4 linked regions of the Homo sapiens genome follow. The protein of the gene in region 1 interacts with the protein of each later gene in a biochemical or structural test. Each region holds a gene or a part of one and is shown in the gene's direction. Other genes may lie near its edges.

What was found.
Region 2: the proteins of PSMC2 (region 1) and UBLCP1 form a complex in vitro, tested with the Homo sapiens proteins (one study listed by BioGRID).
Region 3: the proteins of PSMC2 (region 1) and PSMD5 form a complex in vitro, tested with the Homo sapiens proteins (one study listed by BioGRID).
Region 4: the proteins of PSMC2 (region 1) and ZFAND5 are reported together in a solved structure, tested with the Homo sapiens proteins (one study listed by BioGRID).

The regions. Positions count from the first base shown.
Region 1 is NC_000007.14:103,354,952-103,362,980, forward strand, and holds part of PSMC2 (26S proteasome regulatory subunit 7), read left to right. Parts: intron 1-742; coding exon 743-842; intron 843-7,005; coding exon 7,006-7,137; coding exon of another isoform or gene 7,138-7,141; exon of another isoform or gene 7,142-7,516; intron 7,517-7,734; coding exon 7,735-7,807; intron 7,808-8,029. UniProt on the Homo sapiens protein: Component of the 26S proteasome, a multiprotein complex involved in the ATP-dependent degradation of ubiquitinated proteins.
Region 2 is NC_000005.10:159,275,350-159,283,378, forward strand, and holds part of UBLCP1 (ubiquitin-like domain-containing CTD phosphatase 1), read left to right. Parts: intron 1-2,888; coding exon 2,889-3,005; intron 3,006-7,862; coding exon 7,863-7,990; intron 7,991-8,029. UniProt on the Homo sapiens protein: Dephosphorylates 26S nuclear proteasomes, thereby decreasing their proteolytic activity. Recruited to the 19S regulatory particle of the 26S proteasome through its interaction with 19S component PSMD2/RPN1.
Region 3 is NC_000009.12:120,820,474-120,828,502, reverse strand, and holds part of PSMD5 (26S proteasome non-ATPase regulatory subunit 5), read left to right. Parts: intron 1-1,595; coding exon 1,596-1,738; intron 1,739-3,817; coding exon 3,818-4,009; intron 4,010-7,038; coding exon 7,039-7,148; intron 7,149-7,523; coding exon 7,524-7,664; intron 7,665-8,029. UniProt on the Homo sapiens protein: Acts as a chaperone during the assembly of the 26S proteasome, specifically of the base subcomplex of the PA700/19S regulatory complex (RC).
Region 4 is NC_000009.12:72,354,990-72,363,018, reverse strand, and holds part of ZFAND5 (AN1-type zinc finger protein 5), read left to right. Parts: intron 1-2,231; 5' UTR 2,232-2,240; coding exon 2,241-2,391; intron 2,392-2,797; coding exon 2,798-2,909; intron 2,910-3,497; coding exon 3,498-3,601; intron 3,602-5,962; coding exon 5,963-6,088; intron 6,089-6,917; coding exon 6,918-7,066; 3' UTR 7,067-8,029. UniProt on the Homo sapiens protein: Involved in protein degradation via the ubiquitin-proteasome system. May act by anchoring ubiquitinated proteins to the proteasome. Plays a role in ubiquitin-mediated protein degradation during muscle atrophy.

The DNA.
Region 1 (8,029 bases):
ATGTATTTTTAAATTCCCATTTCCTTCCTTTAAATGTAATGTGTGAATAATATCAAGAGTTTAAATACAGATTTTACTCCTTCATGATTACAGATTTAAAAAAAATCATTATTCTTCCTTTCTGTTAAGAAATTAGATCTCATTTAACCATATCTTTCACTGCTTTTTACAACCAGGTTTAATGCTTATGCAGTTAAGAAATAAGAAATAGTACCATCTTCTAAGCCAGTAATATTTCTGTTGGTCAAAACCCAGTTCAGTAAACTTCAGTTAACAAGTCAAAAAACTTTTTTGGATAAAAATAAGATCTCACAACATAGTTTTGCTTCAAGTAATTGGGCTCTTTCCTGGAACTTTTTGGGGGGAACTTGAATGATGAAGTTTTATAATATTTGACCTACACAAAAATGTCAAATGTGGCATTATATTTTTGGCTTGACAATTACTTTAGGGCAGGGTGTAGTTTTCAGCTGGGGTGATTTTGCCCCACCCTCCCAACCCCTCCCAGAGGACACTGGGCAATGTCTGGAGACATCCTTGATTGTCATGACTTTGAGAGAGGGTGGTGCTGCTGGCGTCTAGTGGTGAGAGGCCAGGGATGCTACTAAACAGTCTATAATGCACATGATAGTCCTCACAATGAATGATTCAGTGCAAAATATCAGTAGTGCTGAGGTTTAGAAAGCTTATTATAGGGTGATGCATTACATTTTAGTAAATTTTGTCATCTTTCTCTATGTAGGTATTAAAGAATCTGACACTGGCCTGGCCCCACCAGCACTCTGGGATTTGGCTGCAGATAAGCAGACACTCCAGAGTGAACAGCCTTTACAGGTTGCCAGGTATGCACGGGTGCTCTGTGGCAACTTACCTTTGTCTGTATTTTCAAGCACTTAATGTTAGAGTCTCAGGGATAATGCAATAGTTCATAAATAATTTTGATTCCAAATTCCAAGTAAATAAAGCTTTCTACAAAACTGGGGTTAAAATTTTATGCCTTAAACAATTCTTCAAAAATATATGAAGGCATAATCATTTAAAAGATTTAAATGATATAAAAAGATGTAGAGCAAGAAATGAAAAACTCCCTTCTCATACTTGCTTTCCCGTTGCCCTTTCCTCAAACGTAACTACTGAAATAGTTTGGCCCTCGTAATCCTCTGTGTATCTTCCTGTATTTGCATGCAAAGAAACATATCCTGATTTTTTTTTTTTTAGATATAACTACATGTTTTGGGAATCTTTGTCTTTAATATAGGTATACTTATTTCTTTTTTCTTGTGTTTTTAAAAAATTGCAAAAATTGCATAATGTGTAGATGTTAGGCTGTAACAATTTCTGTTACTATACACAGTGCTGTAGTGAATATTCGTGTTAAATGTTTCTCAGTGTATGTGCATACATTTCTGTAGGCTAGCTTACTACAAGTGGAATTCTAGGGGTCAAAGATATTATAGTTTTAAAATCCTGTGAAAATTACTTTGGCCAGTTTATACTTTTACCAAGAGGCTTTGAGGCAAATGTCCATTTGTCTGATCAATGTAAGATACGCAGTTTTCAATTTTTACACTTTTGCCATTTGAGGGAAAATAATTTTAATTTGTACTGTGTTGATTACTAGTATGATAGCTACTTCTTTTGTTTACTAAACATCTGTATTTCTTTGACTACTCATGTTTTGTTCTTGGGTTGTTTCTTGTTAATTTTAGAAACAGTTCATATATTGTACATATTGTCTTTTCTTAAGTATGCTACAAGTATTTTTCCCTAGTCACTTTTAACTTCTTGGTACCTTTTGTTGTACTAATGTTTTACATTTTTAGGAGATAAAATATACCAATATTTCCATTATACCTTTTGGGTGTTAATGTTGCTTAGAAAAACCTAGCCCAATTCAAGGCTATAAACATATTCTCCTCTGTTTATAATCCTTTTAAAAATTTTGTTTTTATTTTTAGTTCCTAAAAGCTAAAGATTATTTTTATTTCCCATCTACTCACCCTCCCTACTTCACAATTTCCATCTTTTCTCACTTTTATTTATTCACTCACTTTTTAGTTTTATCATGGTTTTTGAAGGGTTAAATAGTTCAGGCTGGGCACGGCAGCTCACGCCTGTAATCCCAGCACTTTGGGAGGCCCAGGCAGGCAGATGACTTGAGGTCAGGAGTTCAAGACCAGCCTGGTCAACATAGTGAAACCCCGTCTCTACTAAAAATACAAAAATTAACTGGGTGTGGTGGCGGGCGCTTGTAATCCCAGCTACTGGAGAGGCTGAGGCAGGAGAATCGCTTGAACCTGGGAGGCAGAGGTTGCAGTAAGCTGAGATTGTGCCACTGCACTTCAGCCTGGGGTGACAGAGTGATACTCTGTCTCAAAAAAAAAAAAAAAAGAAAAGAGTTAAACAGTTAAATAATAACAACTGTATTTCCCAATTTCTCTTCCCTAATGACACTCATTTTCACCTTTTTTAGCTGATTATTTTGGTTTTCGTCTTCATGGTTCTAATGGATATTGCTATATCTTGTGTATTATAGATTCCTACTTCTTGATTTTTTAGTTTTAGGTATTATCTTTTGGCTTTCCATCATGGAAGATGAGGATTTTGTTTTGTTTCCTCTGCCTTCACCTTGAAGGCACACCTTTCCTATCCCCTCATCCTTCCTATGTAATTCTGTTATAATTTTGGTTAGATCAGTATTCAGTGTTTATATGATTATGGCTATGTAAACACTATTCACAAAGAGCCAAGTGGTAAGCTGTGATTGCTTTTCCTTTCTTGTACCACTTCTTTTAGTGGTGGTTGTTATAACGTCTTGTTTTTTCATTTGCCTGGTTTTCTGTGCATATATTATGAACTCAACCTCCCACTTTCTCTTGATTGTCTAAACTGCTCTTCAGATGCATTAGATCTGTTCGTTTTCTCTCAGTTATACCTTAGTTGCATCTGGTGTTCTCTCGGTTTCATTTTCCTTAAGTTTTTCCCAGCACCTTCTGACCTGCTTTGGTTTGGACCAGTTGTCCTTTATGCCTGTTTAATGACAATTGTTGTCTGACTTCTCTACCCTGGAGATTGCCCTTTACCTCTCTCCTGTTGCTTGGTCTAATACATCCTCTGGTAGCTTCTTGGAAAAGGGTCAGTTGGGAGGTAATATTTTGAGACTGCATATGTCTGAAAGTGTCTTAGCTGAGTATACAGTTCTTTTCCCTTCAAAATTTTGAAGGCGTCGTTCTGTTGTCCTTTGCCTCCCAGTGTTACTCTGAAGCCATTCTGATCCTCAGTCCTGTATATGTGGCCTAATTTTTCTCTGAAAATTGTAGAGTCTTCTCTTGTTCTATTTTGAAATTTCATGGTGATGTGCCTTGGTGTTGGTCTGTTTTCATCCATTGTCCTGGGCTCTCTTGTCCTTTAGTAAGGCAAATCTTCTTGAAACTATTTGTTAATTTCTTTCCTTCCGTTTTCTTGGACCCTTATTCCTGAATTCTCTTATTTGGATATGGGGCCTCCAGGATTGCTCCTCTAATTTGCTAATCTTTCCTTCCTGTTTTTCTTCTTTTTGCCTTTTTACTTTACTTTCTATGAGCTTTTCTTTATCTTTGAATTTTTCTGTTGATGTTTTTTTCCTCCCATTTTTCTTCTCGTAGGTTTTTAATTTCTCAGGTAAAAAAACTCAGGTTTTTTATTTCAAGGCTCTTATCTTTATTCTTTCATTTTTGTGTGTGTGTTGAATGTTCTGCTCTTATATCATGGTTGTAATATGTTCTTATCTCTCTATGGTAAATTAAAAAATCTAGGTACATTTTTCTAGGCCGTATGAGGGGAATTTTCTTTTTTCTGTAAAGCAGTTAGAGGGAAACTTTTCATATAGATTTTTCATAACAGACAGACTAGCTAAAGAGCCCTATACCCCTACAAGATCCCAGGCCTTAAAGAAAGCAAAGATTATTTTGAAAAAGTTTCCATTGATTTTAGTCTCATACTCTTTGCTTAAAACTCTTGATAAAATTTGTGTATGTGTAATTTTTAGCTTGTGAATTTTTTTTTTTTTTTGAGACAAGGTCTCACTTTGTTACCAAGGCTGGAGTGCAGTAACATGATCTCAGCTCGCTGCAGCCTCTGCTTCCTGGGCTCCCACCTCAGCCTCCCAAGTGGCTGGGACCACAGGTGCATACCACCCCATGTCTGGCTTTTTTTTTTTTTTTTTTTTTTTTTTTTTTTTAATTTTTAGTAGAGACAGGGTCTTGCCATGTTGCCTGGGCTGCTCTTGAACTCCTAGGCTCAAGCCATCTGCCCACCTTGGCCTCCCAAAGTTCTGGGATTACAGGTGTGAGCCACCGTGCCCAGCCAGCTTATGAATTTTTTTAATAACAATCTTACTGATATAAAATTCAGATATCATGAGGTTCACTCTTTTAAAGTATACAATTTAGTGATTTTTAGAATATCTAGAAAATTGTGCATTGATCATCACTATCTAATTCCAGAATAGAATATTTTTGTCACCCCAAAAACAAACCCAATACCCATTAGCAGTCTTCATTCCCGTCTCTTTCCAGCCCCTGGCAACCATTTATCTACTTTCTGTTTCTATGAATTTGTCTATCCTGGACATATCATCTAAATGGAATCATATAGTACATGGCTTCCTTCACTTAGCATATTTCAAGGTTCATCCGTATTCTAAAATAGATGGAACTTTTTATGGCCAAATAATATTCCAGTCTAATTTCTCTATCTGTATTCACTATTGGTGAGACATTCTTCTCATCATTCCTATAAACTCTTTAGATATGGTTTCCTTTAGCTTTTTGAAAATATTTCTTGTACTGATTTAAGGTTTTTGTTTGACTGGGCGCAGTGGCTCATGCCTGTAATCCCAGCACTTTGGGAGGCTGAGGCAGGTGGATCACTTGAGGTTGGGAGTTTGAGATCAGCCTGGCCAACATGGTGAAACCTGTCTCTACTAAAAATATAAAAATATTAGCTGGGCGTGGTGGCAGGCGCCTGTAATCCCAGACACTTAGGAGGCTGACGCAGGAGAATTGCTCGAACGTGGGAGGCGGAAGTTGCAGTGAGTCAAGATCGCGCCACTGCACTCCAGCCTGGGCAGCAGTGAGATTCCGTCTCAAAAAAAAAAAAAAAGTTTTGTTTAATAACACCAACATCTAGGCTTCTTAAGGGACAATTTCTATTGACTGATTTTTTTCCCCTTATGTATGAGCCATAATGTCATACATAAGGGAAAATGCATTTCATAATGTTTTGCATCTCATAACTTTTTGGTGATAACTAGACATTTAAAATAATGTAATGTGTCACCTCTGGAAATCAAATTCTTCCTTTCCCCAGGGTTTGGTATTATTGCTGTTTGTTGTTCTTGTTTTTCCTTTCAGGTTTTTTGGTCAGCCTCTTTTTTTTTGGTAGAGAATGGGTATAATTCTTCTTCCCTAGCAAACATGGTTGGTAACAGAAAACAGAGTCCTTCACACAATTATGCTATCAGGACAAAGCATTCTTTTTTAGCCTTGACCTCCTGGGCTCAAGTGATCCTCCAGCCTCAGCCTCCTCAGTAGCTGGGACTACAGGTGCATCCCACCACACCTGGCTAAGCCAAAGCATTCTGTACCTTACTTTTAGCTCTACCTATGTGCGCACTCCACAGGCTATTTTTGTATTTCTCTGTAATTCTTGCTGTGGCTTATGTAGCAGCTTTCTAATGTGAGTTCTGTTTTTTGTTTTTGTTTTTCTTTAGTAGATAGATACTATAGAAGGGGAAAGGCGGTTGACTATTTTATACTGTGATGTGCATGGCATTATAAATTCATTTTTACCAGGCCATATGGAAATGAATATAATTAAGTTAAAAATAGCTTCTACTGGCCGGGTGCAATGGCTCACGCCTGTAATCCCAGCACTTTGGGAGGCCGAAGCAGGTGGATCACTTGAGGTCGGGAGTTTGAAACCAGCCTGGCCAACATGGTGAAACCCCGTATATATTAAAAATACAAAACAATTAGCCGGGCGTGCTGGCGCATTCCTGTAATGCCAGCTACTTGGGAGGCTGAGGCAGGAGAACTGCTTGAACCCAGGAGGCGGAGATTGTAATGAGCCGAGATCGCACCACTGCACTCCAGTCTGGGCTCCAGAGCAAGACTCTGTCTCAAAAAAAAGAAAAAGAAAAAAAAACAAGCTTCTACTGCCTCAGTTAAAAAAAGAAAAAAGTAGCAAAAACAATAAAAATGGATTTAAAGTCCGGGTGTGGTGGCTCACGCCTGTAATCCCAGCACTTTGGGAAGCTGAGGCGGGCGGATCACCTGAGGTTGGGATTTCGAGACCAGCCTGACTAGCCTGAGGTTGGGAGTTCAAGAGAAACCCCCTCTCTACTAAAAAAAAAAAAAAAAATACAAAATTAGCTAGGCATGGTGGTGCATGCCTGTAATCCCAGCTACTCGGGAGGCTGAGGCAGGAGAATTGCATGAACCCAAGAGGTGGAGGTTGCAGTGAGCCAAGATCACACCATTGTGTTTCAGCCTGGGCAACAAGAGTGAAACTCCATCTCAAAAAAAAAAAAAAAAAAAAAAAGAAAAACGGATTTAAAGTATAAACTCAGGAAAAGAATGAAAACCCATTTATTACTGAATTTGGTGTAAGACAAGATGACCATCTTTTTGTAGGGAAAATAAAAACGAGAGCAACTTAAGATATACAGGAGCATCACTAATAATAAAGGAATACAAACTATGGAAATCAAGAAATCAGAGAACTTCTTAATGATGAGATATTTGGGTTTAATTTTCCAGGAGAATGTATTTGAAAATTTTATGACTTGGCTAAAGTCGAATGGACCTTTGGAGTTGGGTATAGAAAAGGATCTTTAACAGTGTCCCAGTTTCTGTAGTTCTAGTTTATACCTGTATATTGCACACTCAGGATATAATCTAGTTAGTTGAATTCATTATTAGTGGCTTAGGTTCCTTATTCTAATCAAGCTTTTTGCTGTGTTAGGTGTACAAAGATAATCAATGCTGATTCGGAGGACCCAAAATACATTATCAACGTAAAGCAGTTTGCCAAGTTTGTGGTGGACCTTAGTGATCAGGTGGCACCTACTGACATTGAAGAAGGGATGAGAGTGGGGTAAGATTTCTATTTACAATAAATACTTTTCTTTCACTAAGGATACTGTCTCACATTCATATCCTTGGCTTTGTAGTGAATAAATGGACTGAGTTCCTTGGAATACCAAAGGATGATCTAGTAATGTACTATAGTTGAAAATTCTGTCTTCTGCATCTGCTTCCTAACTTCCCATCGGCTTCGCTGACTCCCCTACTCCCACTGTTGTTTATTATGAATGGCTTCAAATTTCAGAGTTGAGGTTACCAGTCCATTTAAGGTAACATGGTATAGGTTGGGGGAGTACTTGCTTTAGGATAGTTGTGATGCTAAGTGTGTTAATGTCTATAGAATACATAACAACTCACTTAGTAAATTAAAAAAAAATCTCCCCTCCCTCCTCAAAGGTTTGATTGCTGTTGGATAGGTTGTTTGCGACATTAGACATGTAGTTTAGTATCCTCAGATTTCATGCTCTCTTTATTTCTCTTTATATAATTAGGGACTCTGTCTCTCTCTTGTTTTCTTAAAGTATGGTTTTGGGGATAAAGGACTAAACATAAAAGCACTTTGAAAGCTTAAAGAATGTATTAATGACTATCTTTTTTACTTCCTTAGCGTGGATAGAAATAAATATCAAATTCACATTCCATTGCCTCCTAAGATTGACCCAACAGTTACCATGATGCAGGTAAGAAACTATGGGAGGGAAAAGGAAGGCTATGTCTTTTTTTTTTTTTTTTTTTGAGGCGGAGTTTCACTCTTGTCCAGGCTGGAGTAGAATGGTGTGATCTTGGCTCACTGCAACCTCTGCCTCCCGGGTTCAAGCAATTCTCCTGCCTCAGCCTCCCGAGTAGCTGGGATTACAGGCACCCGCCACCACGCCCAGCTAATTTTTGTATTTTTAGTAGAG
Region 2 (8,029 bases), on another chromosome or scaffold:
GAATAATAAAGTGGTTGAGTTTTGACATAGGAAAATGTATTTAAGGTTAAAAGATTTTTTTTTTTTTTTTTTTTTTTTTTTGAGATGGAGTCTCATTGTGCCGCCCAGGCTGGAGTGCAGTGGTGCAATCTCGCTCACGCAAGCTCCGCCTCCCAGGTTCACGCCATTCTCCTGCCTCAGCCTCCTGAGTAGCTGGGACTACAGGCACCCGCCACCACGCCCGGCTAATTTTTTCGTATTTTCAGTAGAGACGGAGTTTCACTGTTGTTAGCCAGGATGGTCTCGATCTCCTGACCTCGTGATCCGCCTGCCTCGGCCTCCCAAAGTGCTGGGATTATGGGCGTGAGCCACTGTGCCCAGCCAAGGTTAAAAGATTTGAATTTTAATGATAAAATTAGGGATCTTGAAGTAGGACTGTCAAGAAAGGAACTTGTGATTGTGGGTAATTGACCTGTGTTGATGACAGCACAATGTTACTGGGCAGAGTAGGTGAGAAAAATACTGAATATTATCAAGGAAGATACTAGAAACAAGCGAAAACACTCACCCTGCCCTGTTTGAAACTGGTAATAAAAGCAGATGCATCATGATGCATGTACTTTGGGATGATGCTGAAGAATAGCAACAAGAACAATCAGAGAAAAGGGTTTGGCTAACCAGTTATTTTACTCATCAAGTAACTACTCATACTATTAAGTATCTACTGTCTGGAAGGCCCTGTGATAGGCACTGTTGGGAATAAAGAGATGAGTGAGACACAGTCCATATCATTTGAAAGCACCCAAACTGTTAGCTGGGCTGGATAATGCATGCCTGTAATCCCAGCTACTCAGGAGGCTGAGGCAGGAGAATTGCTCAAACCCAGGGGGCGGTGGTTGCAGTGAGCTAAGATTGAGCCACTGCACTCCAGCCTGGGTGACAGAGCAAGATTCTGTCTCAACAAAATAAAGTAAAATAAAAGCACCCAAACTAATAGGAATTGAGGAGAACTTAGGATACGAGGAAACCTTAGGGGAGACAGTATTAAAATTATCAAAACCATAAATAGAATGATTTAAGGGCATGGGGACTTGTTCTATAAAGGAAATACTGCATGTATCGAGAAAAAGATAACTTACTATATACTAAAGTAAAATAATACATTTACAAAATCTTAACATTAAAAATTACTTAGGGAAATGTTAAACATGTTTTATAACAGTGAAAAATTAAAGGAATAAAAATAATCCTCAATATCCAGCAATAGGGCATTGGATATATAAATTACTGCTACCCATATAAGGGACTGTAGCTCGTCATTTGATGTAGTAGGATATGTAATGATTTAGAAATTTTCATGACACATTTAAGTGAAAGAAGTATTTTAGAGAACACTGTTGTAAGCCGTTAGAAAATAGTTCTTAACCTTTGTTTGGTTCAGGATTACCCTTAATTTAACAAAGAACCTGTCAACTCTCTGAGGCTGCTCTTGTTTATAAAAATGCCTGGAGTCAATGTATCAGAATATTGAGTTGTTGCCCTTGGTACTGACTAGATTATTGATTTAAAATTTTCCTTTATGCTTTTCAGTATTTTCATGTTTTTTTTCTGTAGTTAGCAATATTACTTTTCTAATTGAGAGCAAAGTAGTTTGTGTTTTGGGGAACATAGGTGCTTGACCTAATTAACAAATGACAGCACTTTTTAAGAGGATGTAGGATTTTTATTCTGGATGTCATAAAAAATGACCTCTGTTGTCATATTTCTTGAGGCTTTTGTTAGCTAAAAATCCACAAAATATGGCTTATTGTATTAATTCTTATATATTTGTCTTCATTTCGTGGGGGGAGTAGGGGGCGGTTTCTATTTCGGTAGTAAACAAGATCAGTAGCAAAAAAAAATCAGGAAAGTAAAATTTTAGTAAATTAAAATATTTCATTAACATTTTTTGTAATAGGCAAGACAATAGGAAGGAAAAAGCTTTCTCCAAATTAAATTATAGGAGGAAAAAAATTTTTAAGTTACAACTTTTATCACTATTTATTTCTTACCACTTAATCTCATATATTTATTATTACATTCTGTTCTCATAATACCGTAAGACTTCTGTCTTCAGCAAAAGTAATTTTCTAGAAATTTAAAAAATTTTCTGAATGTGTAATACATTTGCATGACTAAAAAAATAGTAAAGTACATAATGAAAAGTCATCTTTCACCTGGTACCTAGCCACAATCAGTGTTATTTCCTGTGTGGTCTTACAGAGACTTTACACAAATACCAACAGGTAAGACTATATAAGAAATTATTTATTTGAAGCTTCAGTTTAAGAATTCAGAAATAAGAGTAAGAATTTGTAAAATATGGTGCTTCCGAAGTTAAGCAATCAAATTCCCTAGAAATTATGCACCTGTGCCACTGAGTTAAAGACAAAACGAGTTTTTCCTCTATAAAATATTCAAATTATTAATTGAAAAAGCCAAATACAGTTTTTTTTTGACTAGGGTGTTCTAGTTTTGAAAGCAGACTCCATGTGACTCCCAAGCTCTGAGAAGGAATGTGTTAACCAAGGAAGTCATGTGACTGCATAGCAGACATCTAAACAATTACTTTGGATTTTTAAAAAATTAAATAATTTATTTATTTTACCCAAAATCTTCACGTTAAAATTATGGAAAGTTTTATAATGGGTTTAGTTCAGTTGGACATGAACAAACCTTTCAGAAGTTTTAATATTGCAAAATGCATTGTGCTTTAAAGTGGGTTGCATTTAATGATTAGCTCACACCTGTCTTACAGGGGGAAAGGAACACTTTGGCATTGTTCTGCAGGGCAGTTTGCAGTATTCCTGCTTTTAAGACAGGATGAAATATTGATAAAATTTGAGTTAAATGTAAACTTTTATTCTAAGGTAAAGCCTCTTGGTGTTATATGGGGAAAGTTTTCGGAGTTTTACAGCAAGAAAAACACCATTATGTTTGATGACATAGGGAGAAATTTTCTAATGAACCCACAGAATGGACTAAAGGTAAGACATACTTTTACTTGTTATGTGCTCATGTAATCTGGGCTGTGTGGTAGAACTTTTGTAGTAAGCACTGTTGAATTTCATATATTTTTGGAAGTACTGTATTCTTATGTCATAGGCGAGAAAAGTTTAAGAATAATTCATATAGAAATTGAACTTTGTCTTTTTTGCATTGATGTCTCCATAGTTAGCTAGTTCATCCAAGTATTTGTTTGTTTATTTATTTATTTATTTTTGAGACGGGATCTCACTCTGTCGCCCAGGCTAGAGTGTGGTGGTGCGATCTCGGCTCGCTGCAATCTCCACCTCCTGGGTTCAAGTGATTCTCCTGCCTCAGCCTCCTGAGTAGCTAGGATTACAGGCACGCACCACCACACCCAGCTAATTTTTGTATTTTTAGTAGAGACAGGGTTTCACCATGTTGACCAGGCTGATCTCAGGCTCCTGTCCTCGTGATCTGCCCACCTCGACCTCCCACAAGTGCTGGGATTACAGGCATGAGCCACTGCGCCCGGCCCAAGTGTTTTATTTTTAATTAGCTCTGTGGGAGCAACATGGGCTTCCCAACATTGACTTTTAGCATCCAAAGTGAAATCATTAGTTATTTTTTTAGGTATACAAATCTTGGCATTTTAAACATTCTGGTTAGCTTGAGAAATGGCAGTAAGGGTACTTTGTTTTTTCTTTTTAAACTGAAACTAAAGACGTTTTTGAAAATTCCTAGACGGCAAGTACAGATCTTAGAATTAGACATTGCCAGAGCTAGAAGGAACCACAGTCATCTCTTGCCTACCTTCTTAACTTTGGAAACAGTCTGAGGTTGAAGAAGTTCCTGACTTGCCCAAGATTGTATATGTAACTGGCTAATGACAGAATTTGGGTTAGACTCTAGTGACTTGGTTCCTAGGTCAGTGACAATCTTAGCATGCAACTGCATGCAGTCTTATGTGACATTTCATCCTGGTAACAGTATAAAATTGGTAAGAGTGAAATTTGAAATTTAAAAGTTTCTGGTACCCATAGTTGATTACATGTTGGCGCAATATGAAAATGGAAAAGATAGCTCTATACTATGGCACTATTGCACATGGAGTCTCCATTCGAAGTGGCAGTCCTGACACTGAGATGTTTTCATTCTCAGTCCTAAACTTTTCTACTAGCTGGGTCCTTGGTAGTTTTAAAAGACAAGAGAGAAAAACTTAAAAGTACATTTTTTAAACCTTTCTTACAGACTGTTGATTTGAGTTTTTGTTTACAATGAGGATATTTTAGGGAAAGAATACTAATCTAGGTAGTGAATTGCCATAAGTATAAAAACTGTTGACTTGGAAGAAAAGTGGTTATGTTGTCCTTAATGGTTTCTGTTTAAGGCTTGGAGAGAAGTGCTTTTCTTAATATGTACTGCACCAGGTAAAGGTACAAAAATGTATTCTTGAGTCTTGAGAAGAAATGTGGTTGATGTAAACCTAATTGTTTGTGAAACGAATGGTTATTACCTGTTCTTGCAAGGAGGTGATCCCATGATGGTCAAGGAATAATTTTGGAGGAGACGTTTAACTTTAAAAAAAAAAATACAATCATTAGTTTCATGTTTGTTTAAAAGAAACTTTGTTTTCCTAACCAACATTTGAGCTCCATTCATCTCTTGATGCAGGGAGAGATGTTATTGTAAATGTCTAGTTCTTTATGTTACTTTACAGTAGGGTTTTTAAAAGACTGTACTCAGTAGACCCACTGAAGGAATTCCTAAAAATACGTATGTCCCCATCCCCTAAATTCTAATTCCAGAGGTAGATTTAGACACTCCACAGGCTGTCCTTGTGTGTCTTTTATTGAAAACCTCTTTTTTATAAAATTAATCTACCCAAGATAACACTTCATGAAAACCTCTTTTAAGGTTAAAGATTAAAGGTTAAGATTAAGATTAAAGATCTGCCCACGTCGGCATAGAAACAGGTGGGGTTTTCTGACAGGGTCTTGCTCTGTCACCCAGGCTGGAGTGCAGTGGCATGATCAGAGCTCATTGCAGCCTCGACTTCCCTTGCTCCAGTGATCCTCACATGTCAGCCTCCCAAGTAACTGGGACTACAGGCGCACGTTACCACACCTGGCTAATTTTTGTATTTTTGGTAGAGACAAGGTTTCGCCATGTTGCCTAGGCTGGTCTCGAGGTCCTGCACTCAAGCGATCCACCTATCTCGGCCTCTCAAAGTGCAGGATTACAGGCATGAGCCACTGCGCCCAGCCCAGAAAGAGTTCTAAAATGGAGAAATATCCTCAAATGCTGTGTTTTGTTATCATGCTTTCATAATGCACTTGGTAGAAATCTCAAAGATTTCATGTAGATCTTAAAAATAAGACTGCTCATTTTTAAAATAGTTAACTTCTATTAAACATAAGCTTGTCAGTCATAAGGTTTGAAGTACATGGAAGGTACTGTGAATATGAATTTAGAATTACACTAAAAGAATGTGAATCTTGGTCATGGATAAAGCAGTTTATCGGCTGAAAACTCCATTTTTATTGTCTGTACAAGGAAATTATGATATAGGAGAATTCAGCTTATCTAGACAGTCTTAAGTTTCTAAAAATGCTTCCTTGACCTGAGACAAGATGATGGTTTCCTGTCCTTTTAGTGATCACTTAGATCAGTTTTTAAAAATGTACAGTAAACAGTGGTTATACTGGAGCAAGTGAAGTCAATTAGGTGCATAGATTTTCACCCTTAATTTGTTTATTTAAAATTTTAGAACCAGAATCATTAGAATATTTTAGTTTTGTTGTTTAATAGTGCTTAAGAGCAAATGTTTGGAAAGTAAAAATAACTTAGCAGAGCCTTGGGTTGAAAATCTTATTTACTACCCACCAACCCTGTAATTTCCTGCTGTTTAAATTTGGACACTTTGGTACATTATATATTAATTGCTTAAAAGTTAATTTGTTACCTTTCAGTCCTTAGGAAGTGAATGAAGGAATACTTTAAAACATTACCATATCACCCAGGATTATGCAGAAACTCATTTCACTACATCCTCATATCATGACTCTGTTTACTCCCATCCCCAGGGCCTAAGCAAGGCCCTGTAAAGCGTCGTCTTCAGCCCCCACATTCACTGCTGCTCGGAAACAGCACTGCTGCACTACCTTTTTGGAAGTGGGATCTCCCACAAATGCTGATTTCTGAGGAGACTCCCTTTGACAGCTCTTGACTGGTGCCCTTCAAGCAGTATGGGAGCCAGCTAACAGTGTGGAGGTCACTGGCACCAAGCTGTTCTGATGAGAGTAGAACACCTGGGAAAATTTTCTTCTGTCCATTTCAGATGGGTGGTGTTTTTCCAATGACAGAAGAAAAGTATGTAAAAAATACTTAAACCCTTCCCTACACTTAATAGGTATGGTAGTAGACTCCTTTGGGCTCACTCATTGTTCTTGCTTCTCAGTAAGTGACAATGATTAAATATCATTCATTTTTCAGTGTTAACTGTGTAAAATTAATAACTAATGACCAAAAAAAAAAAAAACTAATGACCAATTTGCATTTTCTCCAAATCAAAAGAATATACTAATACTTTGCTAAGTATGATGAAATCAGTCCTTACATGTGTGCTTTAGGAATATGTGTGCTTTAGGAATATGTATGATTTTTTTTTAACGATAACAGAAAAATTCAAATGTAAACAGAACTATATAAAATTGCTTAAACCCCCATGTAGATATCATTCAGTTTAAATTAGCTTATTAATTCATGGATGGTTATTGTTTGCTCTATACGCTACTTCCCTCTCCTTAATATTTTGAAGTAAATCTTAGTCATATCATATTATCTAAAATTAATTTAAAATTATTGAAAGACTATCTTGAGTTGTATAAAGATATTTGAGCAGGTGTCTTTTACAAAACAGCAGAATTCTTTACTGAAGCTATAAAATAAGGAAAAGTGCATAAATTTATAGTTCAACAAACTGTAAAGATAATTCTTGTAAAAAATTTTATTCCACTAAAATTACTCATGATTTTCCTTTCCAAAGATAAACACTATTACCATCTTGATTTATAGTCCTCTAGTCTTTTTAAGCATAGATTTATGCACAAATCTAGATGAAGATTGCATATAAACATATGCATTCATAGCACCGCCACTCAAGTCAAGATATGGTATTCCTTACTAATTGCAGTCCCCTACCTCGGTCTATTATTCTGACATGTGTGGTTTGAAATAATGCTTTTTAAACTCTTTTTCATCATAAAATAGATCAGCCTTAAACATTTGGAAAATATGGCAGTTCTTTTTATGGAAAACTCTTGCATAATTAAAAATGATTTTAACAGAGAATTTAATGATAAAGAAAAATGCTTATGATAAAATGTAGGAGGAAACAGGTTATATAAATGTATAATGATATCTCAGCTATATAAAAATTTAATAGAAAAATAAAATAAAAATCATCGTTAAAATTTATCTCACTGTACTGTTAGATCAAGCTGGTATTGGGGTTAAATTTTTATGAATAAAATAATGTGAATGAAATTAATTAGAAGCAACTAGAATGATAGGAGGCGGGAAAGGCTAAGTAGTTTTGCAAAGTAGAGTAGCTGTGTATGGATTCAAGTGCAATAAGAAAGCTGGTGTTGTCAGGTTCAGATTGAAAAGATAATGTTAGGTAAAATAGGTAGAAGAGTTTGTAATTTGTAAACATTATACATGACTTTCTATTTAGGCTAATATAAAAGTAATTTTTAGTATTTATGTTCTTGGTGATATTTTAACCTCATTAACTCTAATTGAAATGATAGTATAGATTTGTTAGTTTTCCTTATCACATTGTGATGTGTTGAGTAATGTTTGTTTCCTAATAGATAAGGCCTTTTATGAAAGCGCACCTAAATCGTGATAAAGACAAAGAACTTTTAAAATTAACTCAGTACCTCAAGGAGATAGCAAAATTAGATGACTTTTTGGATCTAAATCACAAATATTGGGAAAGGTAAGTTTTAATTGCTTATTTATTTTCTCTTTACATCAA
Region 3 (8,029 bases), on another chromosome or scaffold:
CACTGTACTCCAGCCTGGGCAACAGAGTAAGACTCTGTCTCAAAAAAAAAAAAAAAAAAGAATATGAGCTTTTCAAAATGAGGAAGACTTGGCTTGCATGCCTCTCTACTATTTATTAGCTGTTTGGCCTTGGACAGATAATTATAAGCTTTCTACATCTCAGTTTCCTCATCTCTCAGAACAGTAACTAAAAAAGATATTGTGCCAGGTGCAGTGGCTCACAGCCTGTAATCCCAGCACTTTGGGAGGCTGAGGCGGATGGATTACCTGAGGTCAGGAATTCAGGACCAGCCTGGCCAATACGGTGAAACCCTGTCTCTACTAAAAAAATACAAAAAATTAGCTGGGCGTGGTGGTGGGTGCCTGTAATCCTAGCTACTGGGAAGGCTGAGACAAGAGAATTGCTTAAACCCGGGAGGTGAAGATTGCAGGGAGCCAAGATCGTGCCATTGCACTCCAGCCTGGGCAACAAGAGCAAAACTCCGTCTCAAAAAAAATAAAAAGATATTGTAAGAATTAAGCTAATTGACCATAGAAAGCAGTACAATGGCTGACATAGGTTCTCAAAGAAATGTTAATTCCAGTCTCTTCCACCCGCTATTCCCTAAATCCCCTTTAATATCTGCCAAATGTTCTTTTGTTGATATTCCACAGTTTACTAATACCTCCTCACTGTTGAACAGTTGATTTGCTTCAAGTATTTTGCTGTTATGATAGCATTATAGTTATCTTTGTGTATATAGGTTTTGATTTTTCTTATCTTAAATGATTTTCTGATTGTCCTGTGTTCTTTAAACATGGCTGAATTTATTAAACCCATATGAGTAAATCAGTCACTAGTTACATTGCTTCAGTGCATTTGAGTGTCTCAACCTAATGAGACAATTAATTTTGTTAATTATTTTTTAGCATTGTATCAAATTTTGTGACATAGAAAAAAACCTGTAAATGGTCAGTCAAAACAGTTTAGGATCAACCACCAACTAAATAAATTTTTTAGTTATTTTCTTTGATCATGGTTGGATATGAGATGATACCAAAGAATTATTGTTAATTTCTTAATATGTGGCAGTGGCATTATAATTGTGTAAGGAAACATATGTGTTTTGTAGAGATGCATACTAAAGTATGCAGGGGTAAATGGCAGGGTGACTAGGATTTGCTTTAAAATAGTTCAGCAAAAAGTAGGGAAAAGAGATGAAATAAGTAAAGCAAAATCTTCATAACCATAAAATCAGGTTATGTGTATATGGGGGCTTATTGTATTCTCATTACTTTTGTGTATGATATTTCAAAATAAAACACAAATTTAGAAAATATTTTAGGAAGCAGCTAGGTTATAGTGGAAACAATAGTGGACTTCAAATCAGAAGGTCAAGATTTAAATCTAAACTCTGCCTATAATAACAATATGATTACAGAGAAGTCACTGCAAATTTCTAGGCCTTAGGGCTTCATGTGAAAAGAGGAGCCAAGATTATTGACCTTTCGAATGTGATAAGAAGAATTAAATAAGATAACCTGTATGAGAGCAATTTATAAACTATGCAAATCCTGTGCAAAATCTCCTTGTTTTTGTCCTTCTGACATTTTAGAGCCACCTGTATAGAAATGGTGACATCACTGGCATATACTCATCATGGGCGACAATATCTTGCTCAAGAAGGAGTAATTGACCAAATTTCTAATATAATTGTTGGGGCAGATTCAGACCCTTTCTCTAGCTTCTATCTGCCAGGTAAGGAACACTGATGCCTATGGAAATGATGGTGCGTGTTTTATTTCTGAGTTATCTCTGACATCAGGGGGTTGGGGTAGGGAGTGGACAGGGATTGTTTTCCTTTAGAGCTGATTTCCTTAATGAGCTGATTTCGTTTAGAAGATATCTAGAGCAACCAAGTTCAAATTCAACAGCACATTAAAAGGGTCATCCACCCTGATGAAGTGGGATTTATCCTATGGATGCAGGGAGGGTTCAGCATATACAAATCAATAAATAAGATATACTATGTTAACAGAATAAAGACAGCAACCAAGTAATGCGGGAAAAGCATTTCACAAATTTCACCTTTCTTTTATGATAAAAACTCTTAACAAATAAAGTATAGAAGGAATCTATCTCAACACAATAAAGGCCATGTATGACAAACCCACAGCTAACATACTCAGCGGTGAAAAGTTGAAAGCGTTCCTCTAAGATCAGGAACAAGGCCGGGCGCAGTGGCTCATGCCTGTAATCCCAACACTCTGGGAGGCCAAGGCAGGCAGATCATGAGGTCAGGTGATCGAGACCATCCTGGCTAACACAGTGAAACCCCATCTCAACTAAAAATACAAAAAATTAGCCGGGCATGGTGGTGGGTGCCGGTAGTCCCAGCTACTCAGGAGGCTGAGGCAGGAGAATCCTTTGAACCTGGGAGGTGGAGATTGCAGTGAGCCAGGATCGCGCCACTGCACTCCAGCCTGGACAACAGAGTGAGACTCCATCTCAAAAAAAAAAAAAAAAAAAGATCAGGACAAGGATGCCCACAATTACCACTTCTATTCAGCAAAGTACAAGAAGTTATAGCCAGAGCAATTAGGCAAGATAAATAAATAAAAGGCATCCAAATCGGAAAGAAAGAAGTGAAAATTTCCCTGTTTGCAAGTGATGTAATGTTTTATTAATATATAGAATAAAGTTTCCACCAAAAAACTGTTAGAATGAATAAATAAATTCAATAAAGCTGCAGGATACAAAATCAGTGCATAAAAATCCGTAGCATTTCTATACACTAACAGTGAACTCTGAAAAAGTAATCAAAGATACATTCCCATTTACAATAGCATTCAAAAAAAATTAAATATTTATGAATAAATTTAAGGAGGTGAAAGATCTGTACACTGAAAACTATAAAAACTGATGAAGGAAATTGAAGAAGACACAAATAAATGGAAAGGTATCCTATGTTCATGGATTGGAAGGATTAATATTATTAAAATGTTCATGCTGCCCAAAGCACTATATAGATTCAGTGCATTCCCTCCAAAATTTTTAAATTTAATGACATTTTTCACGAAAGCAGAAAAAATAATTTTTAAATATACATATTTCAGAATACATTGTTCACAATAAAGATATATGATTTTTTGTCAGTTAAAAGTTAATTTTTTTAAAAAGATACCTATAGCCTCTTATTGAGGTGGAATCTGTTGCTCTTGGAGCTACGTACTGTTGACTTTGGTTTTCTGGAAACATCAGTGCTATTTAGAACATTAGGATATTTTTCTTTTTGAATATCAACAAAAACATAAATAAAAATACTAGTAATGACATTTACAGTATGTTTCACAGATTAATCACATCTCTGAGTGGGAGTCTTTATCTGTTGTAGGATCTACTCTTGCCATTCTATTCTGGGTTTTGGTTGATTAGTCTTTCTTGAACACTTCCAGAAATTGGAGATGTATGCCTGCCTTAGGTAGCCTAGCTTATTTTATTAATGAACATATCCATTTAAAAATTTCTTCCTGGTAATGAGTCTAAACTTGCCTTCCTGTAATTTGTATCCACTGGTCCTTTTTCTTTGTTCTCCCTCTTGCATATGCCAGTACTTCAATAGCTGGTCCCAGCTCCATTGACGCCCTCTCTCAGGATCACACATCACAGGTCCTTCAGAATCTCCTAATGGTCTCTCTGATCTCCAGGCAACACACTACTCTAACCTTTCTATGCTTTTCTGGCCTGCAGTTCATTTCTGTTCCTGTGAAGTCATAGAGCCCGCAATTCATGCTGTCTTGTTCCCCTATTAAAATATATTTTTGTAAATCTCTTTAGGATTCGTGAAGTTTTTTGGAAACCTGGCTGTCATGGATAGTCCTCAACAGATCTGTGAGCGTTATCCTATCTTTGTGGAAAAAGTCTTTGAAATGATAGAAAGTCAGGACCCCACTATGATTGGTGTAGCTGTAGACACAGTTGGAATCTTGGGATCCAATGTTGAAGGAAAACAGGTTTTACAGAAAACAGGTTGGTATGACTTGGCCCTGTTCAGGGATATCTTAATCTTTGACAGGGGTTCAATATGTAAGTTCATTTGCTGGTGGGTTAACTACATTGTAGAAACTATTTTATGGGTGGCAGTCTTGTTAACCATGACCTTGTACTCATGTCTGAAAATCTAATAATTATTACGGAAAACCTTTTTTTTTTTTTTTTTGACTTTTCACTGGTTTAGGTTTTCATTGGTTTAGGTTTCTACCAATCGATTTCAACCAAACATTGTTTCCTGTTTCCCCTCTATGATGTCTTCTTTGACTAGATTTCATGGTACAAAGACCACGGGCTAGAGTCAGAAAGGTCTGGATTCATGTCCTTGGGTTTTCTATTCTTTTTTTTTTTTTTTTTTTTTTTAAGAGATTGAGAGTGTCTCTCTGTTACCCAGGCTGGCCCCGAACTCCCGGGCTCAAGCAATCCTCCTGCCTCATCCTCTTGATTGGCTGGGTCTACAGGTCCACACCATTGTATCCAGCCCTGACTTTGCTTTTTGAACTTCATTTACTCACTTCACTTTTCTAGGCCTCATTTTCTTCATTTATAAAAATGGCATAACAACTGCTTCTCAGGGTTGTTGTGAATATTTATGAAATTTTGAGAAAGGAAAATAAAAGTTTGTTATAAGATTTCATGTTAAGAGATACTTTTGGCATGTTAAGAGATACAATGGTTCATGCCTGTAATCCAGCACTTTGGGAGGCTAAGGTGGGTGGGTTGCCTGAGCTCAGGAGTTCAAGACCAGGCTGGGCAACATGGCAAAATCCTATCTCTACTCAAGAATACAAAAATTAACCAGGCATGGTACTGCACAACTGTAGTCCCAGCTACTTGAGAAGCTGAGGAAGGAGAATCTCTTGAACCTGGCAGGTGGAGGTTGCAGTGAGCTGAGATCATGCCACTACACTCCAGCCTGGGTGACAGAGTGAAATTCTATCTCAAAAAAAAAAAAAAAAAAAGAGGCCAGGTATGGTGGCTCATGCCTGTAATCCCAGCATTTTGGGAGGCCAAAGCAGGTGGATCACTTGAGGTCAGGAGCTCGAGACCAGCCTGGCCAACATGGTGAAACCCTGTCTCTACTAAAAGTACAAAAATCAGCCAAGCGTGGTGGTGCATGCCTGCAGTCCCAGCTACTCGGGAGGCTGAGGCAGGAGAATGGCATGAACACAGGAGGTAAAGGTTGCAGTGAGCCGAGATCACACCACTGCACTCCAGCCTGGGCGACAGTGCGAGACTCTGTAAAAAAAAAAAAAAAGAAAGAAAGAAAGATACTTTTATGGAACATCCATGAGGATCAACAGCACAACAAATTTTACACACAAAATAATATGCAGCCCAATTATTAAAATTCTTGAGACACATATGTTGAAAATTATCTCACCTGTAATCCCAGCACTTCAGGAGGCCAAGGCGGGAGGATCGTTTGAGCCCAGGAATTCAAGACCAGCTTCGTCAACAACAACAACAAAAAAAATTAGCCAGCTGTGGTGGTGCATGCCTATAGTCCCAGCCACTCGGGAGGCTGAGGTGGGAGAATCATTTGAGCCCAGGAGGTGAAGGCTGTAGTGAGCCTTGATCACTCAGTTGCACTGCAGCCTAGGTGACAGAGTGAGACCCCATCTCAAAAAAAAAATTTAAAAAGAGGCCAGGCGAGGTGGCTCATGCCTGTAATCCCAACACTTTGGGAGGCCAAGGTGGGTAGATTACCTGAGGTCAAGAGTTCGAGACCAGCCTGGCCAACATGGTCTCTACTAAAAATACAAAAATTAGCTAGGTGTGATGGCAGGCGCCTGTAATCCCAGCTACTCGGGAGGTTGAGGCAGGAGAATCGCTTGAACCTGGGCCGTGAGTCGAGATTGCGCCATTGCACTCCAGCCTGGGTGACACAGCAAGACTCCATCTCAAAAAAATAAAAATTAGAAAATAGAAAAAGAAAAAAAGAAAATTAATACGCTGTTGTGTATCACAGCTAATATTTTTGTTATATGTCGTTTTCTAAGTGCTTTTACCTATGACAATCGTTTTACAGTCCTGCAAAGAACATACATTGTCATTTTCATTTTCCAGATAAGGTAGATGAAACTTAGAGGAGTTAAGAAAATTTCTAAGGTCATACAAATTATGGCAGCTGCTACTCAAGTCCAGGTCCTTTGATTCCAGTTTTATAACTTTGCCTTATATATGCTGTGTTGCGTGTAATTATGTGTTCTAGGCCTGTCACTGGTTCTCTGACTACATGCTTATTTTTGTATTGGTTTAGGTTGGTAGAGGTCATAGTGTATGAGAGCATACTTTAAAAAAATCTCATTTTTCACTTCATATCCATTAGGATGGCTATTACTTTAAAAAAAAACCCATAAAATAATAAGTGTTAGGATGTGGAGAAATTGTAACCCTTGTACATTTTATATTTCCTTCATCCAGCAGCTCCACTTTCAGGTATATACCAAAAAAAATTGAAAGCAGAGACTCAAACAAATGTTTGTACAGTCATGTTCATAGCAGCGTTATTCACAATAACCAAAAAAAGGTGCAAGCAACCCAATGTTCATTGATAGATGAATCAATAAACAAAATGTGGTATATACATACAATTGAATATTACTCAGCCTTTAAAAAGAATGAGATTCTGGCACATGCTACAGCATGGAGGAAGCCTGCGCCACTGATAACATTATGCTAAGTGAAGTAAGCCAAACACATAAGGACAGATATTGTATGATTCCACTTAGATGAGATGCCTAAAAGAGTCCAGTTCACAGGAGGTAGAATAGTGGTTGGCAGGGGATGAGGGTAGAGAAGAAAGGGAATTATTGTTTGATGGATACAGAGTTTCAGTTTGGGTTGATGAAAAAGTTCTAGAGATGGATGGTTATGATGGTTGCCCAACAGTGTGAATGTACTTAATAGCACTGAACTATACACTAAAAATGGTTAAAATGGTAAATTTTATGTTGTGTATATTTTACCATAATAAAGAAGAATCTCACTGTTATCCTTCAAAGGAACTCGCTTTGAACGCTTGCTTATGAGAATAGGACATCAATCAAAGAATGCCCCAGTGGAGCTAAAAATTAGATGTTTGGATGCAATTTCATCTCTTCTGTACTTACCAGTAAGTAGGTAGGGAAATAATGAAGGACAGTGGGATATGTTTGGGAGAATAAATCTGTATGAATCAACATGATAAATGTGATGAAGTAAATACAAGAAGATAACCCTCATTATATGACTAGTGACATTTTTAATTTAAAATGGAATCATAGAGTGTTAGAACTGAAGAGACTCTAGAGACTGCTTAATCAACCACATTCAAAGAAAACTGGGAAAGGTCTGGGCTGGATTTGAGAAAGAGTCCTCCAGACTTAGCCAGTTTCACACAACAAATTAATGACAGAGTGCCATCAGCACTCAGGTGTCTGACTTCTAAATAAGTGCTTTTCTCCAGATCAGTTAACTTTTGATGAGATTTTCCTTTTCTTTCCTGTAGCCTGAGCAGCAGACTGATGACCTTCTGAGGATGACAGAATCCTGGTTTTCTTCTTTATCTCGGGATCCACTGGAGCTCTTCCGTGGCATTAGTAGTCAGCCCTTCCCTGAACTACACTGTGCTGCCTTAAAAGTGTTTACGGTAGGTATTCACTTCCATAGGTCCTTCTGGGACCCTGCCAGCTCAACACTTGAGTACTTAACAGTGAGCCAGAGCCTGTGCCATCTCTGGGGATGCACAAGTGCATAGTATAGTTTCTACCTTCTGCTACCTTAGAGACTAAGTAAGGAGACAGATGTGTAAACAGATTGTTTCAGTAAAAGATATTAGGTGCTGTTTGAGGTTTGAACAGGATGCTATGGGATCACACAGTTAATTCCAGACTTTTTATCTGCCATCCTCTATTAACCTAGCCCTGGTCTTCCTAATCCTTATTTCCCGTGCAGAAAATAAGGCTTCTGGCACCTAATGCTCCAGTGGTACCAAACTGTTTGTTTTGTGTCTCT
Region 4 (8,029 bases), on another chromosome or scaffold:
GGAAAAAACTAGCAGCCCTTTTTTTGTTTTCTTATGTTAGATATATGAACGCTGCATCCTTAGTTCTTGGGGTTGTGTAGGAGTTGGCAGGCTTTGAGATATAAATAGAAGCTGATTTCAGAGGCCCCTGTTGACTAGGCTTTATGTGAGAGCCTCCATCCAGCTCAGCTTGTCACATTGCAGCCTTGTGACAGGCTGAAGCGCCCTCCCATGTGATCTGAGCTTCTGAGAAATATTAAAGCAAGCTGTGCACATGTGATGGCATTTAAAAGCTGGCTTTCTAGGGGAAAAAAATCTAAAAGATGGGAACCCATGTAGAAGACTCATGTCCTGGTACCTCTTGTGTGTCTCGCAGTTGAAAGTTATTTATAATGAAATGAAGGTAGACATGTTCTCTGAAGCAAAGTTGGAATACTTTGTTATCTCTGAGTGTGTGAAATCTTTAGATGGAGTATCCTCCATTTTATCTAAAACAAATATTTTAAGAATCAGATTAACTAAAATTACTTAGGTAGGTTGATCGCTTGGCCTTAAACTTTAAAGCCAATGTCACATGAGACTGGGCCTCAGTGTAGAAAATGTAAGCTAGCATACTTAAACTGGTTTTAAGGAGTGACCCAACTTTCATGCATAGGGCAAACATTCACACATATTTTGTGCGTGGTGGGCATGCAAATACATACATATTTATCATTTGAAAGCATTTTTTGCTCCTATTATGCTCATTTAAAAACCCAGCTGAAAGTGTTTATTAATAAACTTCCTAAGTGATGTTGAAATGTTTACACTACCCTGCTCCAAAATGAGTCAGCTAAATTCCAGTTAATATTTAAAGAGACAGTGTCAACTAAATTAATACTGTTGTTAAAAGTAAGTTGTGGATCTTGGTCACTCCACACAAGCTAGATTGTCTTAATATTTGTATGGTGCACTTTTACTTACAAAAGGGAAGATAAAATGTTTTGGGGAATAATTACCAGGGGTCTGGCCAGGTCAAAATTGGTTAGTCCCCTTCTCCCATCTTCTAATTTTGGTAGTTAATACTTGTTAAAACATCGTTTTTTAATAACTCACTAAAAAGTGTATTCTAGTATGTAGTTGGAAAAAATGACTGACCACAAGTTACAGCACACGAATTTTCCTTTAAGCAAATGCTCTCAAATATGCTTTTTGTACATATGCTTATACATGTTTAAGATGACATGAAAACCCTCCACAACTTTATTTTAAAATAATTTTTCTTTAATATGTATTTTCTCATCCAGAGGAAAACTTATTAATAATTTAGCACAGCGTTTTAACAAGACTTTTAGAAAAGCAAATCTTCCTTGGAAACAAATGCTTGCTATGTAAAGCTTTTTCTGGTAACCCAGCATTGAATATTAACCATTACTAAAGGTTATGTGTATATATTGACTTTAATACATTGAATTTGAGCTTGGAACGGTTTTATTATTTTCTGGTATGAGGAAGACAAGCACTTGTTAAAATTAATAGTGCCTTTGGCTGAGAAATCTGGTTCATAATTTGTGTATTGCAGGTTCCTAGGCACTGGCTTTGACATACTCTGAAACTTCAAATGGAGAACGTAAAAGGAGTTTCGTAAACCAGCTGACCCTAAATTCTTAGAGATTTACTTGTTGGTGCCAGGGTAGCAGGAAGGGCTACCAGTTCTCTTTTCAGCCTTATATGAAGATGTTTCAGCATTAAAAAGTACAGATGCTCTGCCTCAGCAGATTTGTCAAATTACTGATGAAGCCCAGATATGTACAGGTGTTTTAAGAAAACTTTATTCATCCAGTTTAAAGAACTACCTATAAATATCAAGACTCAGTGATAATTGTGATTAGCCAATTAAGTAAAAACATTTGAAATGGTCTGCCTGTAGTGCAGCAGAGTGAAAAGTTAAAGATACCAGTTTCCCAAATTGATTAAAACATAACCCTGAGAGCTAACAGACCTTTTCATAAATTGAAACCAAGAATAGTGATAGGTAAAAATACCCTAATAATTGATAAAATTTCTTTTTGGGTTTTTTTTTGGTCCTAAAACAGTTTGCTTTTATAAAGGCAACAAAATATTGATAATTATCTCTGCCCACCCTTTTTAATGATTAACGGAATTTGGGCTTTTGTTAAAACTTGCGTAGCAATTACAACGGTATACCGATGATTATATTAGACTATATTTTGGTGATAACACTAATTTCTGAAATTTCGTTTCATCTATAGCAGAAAAATATGGCTCAGGAGACTAACCAGACCCCGGGGCCCATGCTGTGTAGCACAGGATGTGGCTTTTATGGAAATCCTAGGACAAATGGAATGTGTTCAGTTTGCTACAAAGAACATCTTCAGAGGCAGCAAAATAGTGGCAGAATGAGCCCAATGGGTAAGTTATTTCCAAGGAAAAACACATTTGAAAGAACTGGTGGACAGAAATACAGAACCAAGAATTGGGGCTGAGAATGCTGAAAGCACATGGAGAGAACACCTGATAAGAGCTTGAAATTCAAGCAACAGCCCAAGTGCTTGACATGACTGATCAGGAATGAATGACTATCTACAAGCATCTTATAGCTTTTCAGTTTTCTTTTTTGGGGTTATTTTGTTTCACACTTGTGTTCATTGGATTGACTTTTTAATATTTTTTGTTTGGATACTCAAGTATAGGATTACAGCACAGTGAATGCTTATATCACTAACCTAATTAAATGCAAGTATTTATTACTACGTCTTGATACTAAGTGAGTTTTTGTAGTGTTCATTGGTTCCTTACAAATCCTTTTTTTAAATAGGAACAGCTAGTGGTTCCAACAGTCCTACCTCAGATTCTGCATCTGTACAGAGAGCAGACACTAGCTTAAACAACTGTGAAGGTGCTGCTGGCAGCACATCTGAAAAATCAAGGTAAGATTGAACGTTTCAGAGTTTTTATGATATTACAAAGAAGAAATCAAGATGTCTGTACTGGTCCAATAATAAGTTAATAGATACCCTTGGCTTTGCAATCGAGGATTTCAGTGTCTTTTAATACATGACTCTTAAGTCATTGAGTAAAGATGTGTGTTACTTACACCTGACTCCCTAACCCCCTCAAGGATACTGTGTTGGAAATGCTGTGCTTTTTTATTTCTTTGTAATTGAGGTTTAGGGATTGTCGAGTGAGACTGTAGAATATTATTGGGCCAGACAAGGTGTTTTGGCAGAGCTGCCCTTTTGCCCTTAAACAAGTTACAGGCACAGCTAAAAATCCCTAGCTGGTTGTAAAATATGGTAACCTATACAAAATGCAGCCTCGAGTTCATGAGCCATTTATCAAACTTTTTTCTCAACCATTTGTGCTGGGCATCCAATTTTTTTTTAAACTTTAGATTATCTAGCTCCATTTGCTCATTTTGGAAATATTCTATAATTTAAAGTTGAACTGACAACTTATTCATTGTCTCAAGAAGTACCCTTAACACCTTTAAAAATTGTTTGCTTGAACTCAAATAGAAATGTGCCTGTGGCTGCCTTGCCTGTAACTCAGCAAATGACAGAAATGAGCATTTCAAGAGAGGACAAAATAACTACCCCGAAAACAGAGGTGTCAGAGCCAGGTATGTTTTTCATTTAATACTTGTTCAGTTCTGAATTTGATAGTGCAAGAAATGGCTGGTGGGGGGATTCTTTCCTTCCCATTGAAGGACCAAAGAGGAGGGAGAGCCATAAAATATAGGCCAAGCAAAGAACTACTATCTTTAAAAGTATCTTGAGTATGAGTATCTTGAAGTGTAAAATAGTCATATTTATTCTCAGTTTCTTCTCTGCTCATCCCCTGCACTACCCTTGTGCATAATGGGCAAAGTCTGTAATCTGGAGATTGGATGTGTTAAAAACTTGATGAAGTTAAATTTCAAGGGTATAAGGAATAATTTTATAACCAAAAGCAGTAACTTTAGTTTTGATATTGTCAATGTTGTGGAAAACTTTTAAGTAGAACAACATATTTGAACACTAGAACTTATTTGAAGTACAATATTCCTATCATATTTTGTGGGAGTTTGAAACTCAGTGTGGAAAGGCATTTTGGTTTTCATGAGATATGGTGACTTTGGAAACTTTGCTTATATAGCACAACCAGAAGTGCCCTGATGGTGGAAGAAGACTGACTTGAATTACCTGTACTAGGCCCTAGAACAAAAAGATTTCTGTGCTTTATATAGTGCACGTAGCTTATTTTATCAATTTGTTCTTTTTTGGCAGAGTGCTGATTAAATGCAATATAAAACTTCTGTTGTGAAAAAATACTGTCAGTGGTTATACAGTCTGCTTTGGAGGCTGGCTTTTGCTAACAGCAGTCAAGTTTGTTTATTGTATTAATCTTACAAAGTTAAGGCCAAATTCTCAAGTTTGGCAGGTGAATCTATATTTGGCATTTTGAAATGAGCTCCATCCTTAAACTGACCACATTAGTTTGCCCGTGATGCCTTTGTTTGGGTTTTTGTTTTTGGTTTTGGTTTTTAAATACAAAATTACTCTGACCTTGGAAGAATAGTCTTGGGTTAGAGCTAGTCTGCATTTATTATTACTTAGTAGGCATTCTGTGATTCACTGCTATTTGCCTTTTCTGTGTCATTTTCTTATTCCCCCTTCTTCCCTTGTCTCAGGAGCCGTAGTTCATTTTTCAGATGTGGCCAAAGAAATGGCTGACACCCTCCCTCTACCCCATACAACTATTCCCCTAGATTATTCTTTATCCTCATGACATCAGGATAAACATTAATGTTGTCACAGTAGCAGTAGGTAGAATATTGTTCGTTTAGTCTAATATTAGGCTATTTCTCCCAGTAGATTCATTGCTAATGCAATTGAATTATAAATTTGGGCAGAGTTTTAGAGAAAATTGCCATTAAATCAATCAGCTTGTTGTAGGAGCTTGTCTATATGCTAATAGCATTGGTGCTGGCATATTTGGGCAGTAATTTCAGCATTGCATACATAAATTTGCTATTGTTACATTTGGATTAATATTAAAACCTGAGTTTATAGTGTTTCAGGTGTAGTTGAATTATATGTAAGTAGATATAAATTTTGTTATTTTTGTGTTAAAGAACTAGTGGCAGTGTGGGCTTTAGTACAGTAATGTATTTTTTGTTCATTGTGAGAAATTTTATTGATGCCATGTGTACACTGAAACTTAAAGCCTTTTTAGGTGGAGAAACGGTGGGACTGTTTGTAGATGCTATCTCTGTCGATAGTGGATGCCCATTTTAGATAAGATTCTTGTTCTGCCTGTGGAATCCTTAATAGTTTAAAATCAATACTTCTCGAGTAGTTTCTAAAGACTGTTTGCCGATCTGTTTTTAAAACCAAGGTTTAAAAAAATCTTTCAAGTCTTCCTATGATGTTTAGTGCACCTGTGAAAATGGTAAAATGATTGTTTTGGAATTTTTGGATCTGACGTTGATTTAGGGATGAATGGTTTGAGTTTTATTTGTCAAAATTTGCTGTTTTTATATCTACAGGATTTTTTTTCCTATAAGCATAAAATCAAAGTTGGCTACTGTTATTTACTGTGATGTAATGAATTTGAACTGCCCTGATTGAAAAGTTTGCATTTAGGAAATTATAACGTGGAAAAACTGAGCATATGATTAACATCTCCCAGCTCTTTAAAACAGAATTAGGATTTTGTTTTTAGTACTGGCTGTTACCAGTGTTTTAAAGGAATTTCTTGAGTGAAGCGATCATTTTACAAAATTAGAGAAGCAAGTAGTATGGTGATTGGCAGGAATTTCTCAGATTTGAATCAAGTTCTGATGTTAAAATGGAAGATTCTGTTTAAAGCTTGTATTTTCAAGGAATACTTATAAACATTTTTATCAGGCATCTTCCTGTTTCTCTTAAATACTTCCTTTTTTGACTTAAAAATGTTAGCCAGTGAATGCTTGACAAATTTGTGTTTTTGTCCTTTTCAGTTGTCACTCAGCCCAGTCCATCAGTTTCTCAGCCCAGTACTTCTCAGAGTGAAGAAAAAGCTCCTGAATTGCCCAAACCAAAGAAAAACAGATGTTTCATGTGCAGAAAGAAAGTTGGTCTTACAGGTATTACAAAACACAAGACAATGTATGTTTTACTTCTGCAGTTAACAAGGAGCTTTTGGTCACTCCCTAAGAGACTAGTTGGTCTTACACATAAAAAAAAAAAAAAAGCCTGACTAGCTGTAGTCTAGGAAAGGTGGAGGAGGTGGTATTGGGGTGGAAAGAAGTTGGGTTTTACTTCCATTTGTCTCCTAATCATATAAAACTATTAACTCAGGCCCTCTTATTTTATTAGATTGATAAAAAGTTTTTGTATACCTAGGGAAAATGTTACTGAACTAACAGTAAGCGCCACCTACTTTGAGCTATGCAGGGAATGTTCTTGGTGCTTTTTTTCTTGTCTCCTTCAAATCTCAGACCTTGATGGTTGTTTTCACTTGAGGAAGCATTACTTAAGATATGGTAGGACTGTGTTTTGAATCCAGCTTAGCCTAACTCCAGAGCCTGTGTAAATTTTATCCTGCGTTGCATCTACAGGAGTCGATAGAGGGAGAGCATCTGGGAGAAATTAGCTGGCAGATAGCCCATTTTGTTTTCTCCACGTGGTTTGGCTTACCAAACACTTCGCTATTGCCCTTGCAAGGAAAGACTGAACATAGTTATTTGAATTTCTCACCATGTCAAAGGAAGTTAAAAGTTCCTTTTCCAGGTTAACGTGATAGACTCTGTAAGAGTTGACTGTGTCTTATCACCAGGAAGTGGAAGAAAAGAGTTCACTGTCTTTTATGTTACAAAGCAATGAAAATCTGGTTCCTTTTCTATAGTGACTAAGGCTTTTTTTTCTTTTAATTGCCTCAAGTTCTCAAATGACTCTACTTCTTCGTTTGTACAGGGTTTGACTGCCGATGTGGAAATTTGTTTTGTGGACTTCACCGTTACTCTGACAAGCACAACTGTCCGTATGATTACAAAGCAGAAGCTGCAGCAAAAATCAGAAAAGAGAATCCAGTTGTTGTGGCTGAAAAAATTCAGAGAATATAAATTACTTCTTGTGAAGAGACTGAAACTTTGTTTTTATTTTAATATATCGTAGGAAAACATTAAAGAGCAGATGCATGGCCATTTTTCTTTGATGTTCTCCAGAGTTTTACATTACACTTGTCTGTCTTATAATTGATATTTTAGGATGTTTGGGTGTTTGTTACAGGCAGAATTGGATAGATACAGCCCTACAAATGTATATGCCCTCCCCTGAAAAAAATTGGATGAAAATCTGCACAGCAAAGTGAAACACACAGATAATAGGAACAAAATGTAGTTCCCATGTGCCAAACAAAATAAATGAAATCTCTGCATGTTTGCAGCATATCTGCCTTTTGGGAATGTAATCAAGGTATAATCTTTGGCTAGTGTTATGTGCCTGTATTTTTTTAAAATGGTACACCAGAAAAGGACTGGCAGTCTACTTCTACCATAGTTAAACTTCACCCTCTTTAATTTCACAACATATTCTTTGGAAGCAGGAAGAAATGCTCATAAAGAGGATCAGACCTTCTTTCCCGTGAAACCAGTATTTGGCGCCATATATAAGCCTGGTTAAATTGGTCATCTAAAGCTGTCAAATAAGACATTCTGTGAAAGGTAAACATCGAAACTGGTTATAAGTAAAACCATCAAGCCAACAACAGGGTCTTGAGATAACCTTTGAAGCTTATTGTACTGGCCTGCACCAGAAGATGTCTGCATTACTCATTGCTAAAAATGTGTAGCACAGAACTGCACTAGGATTAATTTGTTTACAAGAAGAAATTTAAACTCTACGTTTGGTTTTCACATACAGCAGCTCTATTGAATAACATGCATCTGAATTTTAAGTTGCAAAGGTATCTGAATAATTTTTCATGTGCATCTTTTGTCGAATGTTTTGGTTCAAGAAAGAATGTTTAAAGCTTTTTAAAAGACTTCAGTTCTTAATGTAACTGTACCCTTCTGCATGGAAAATCA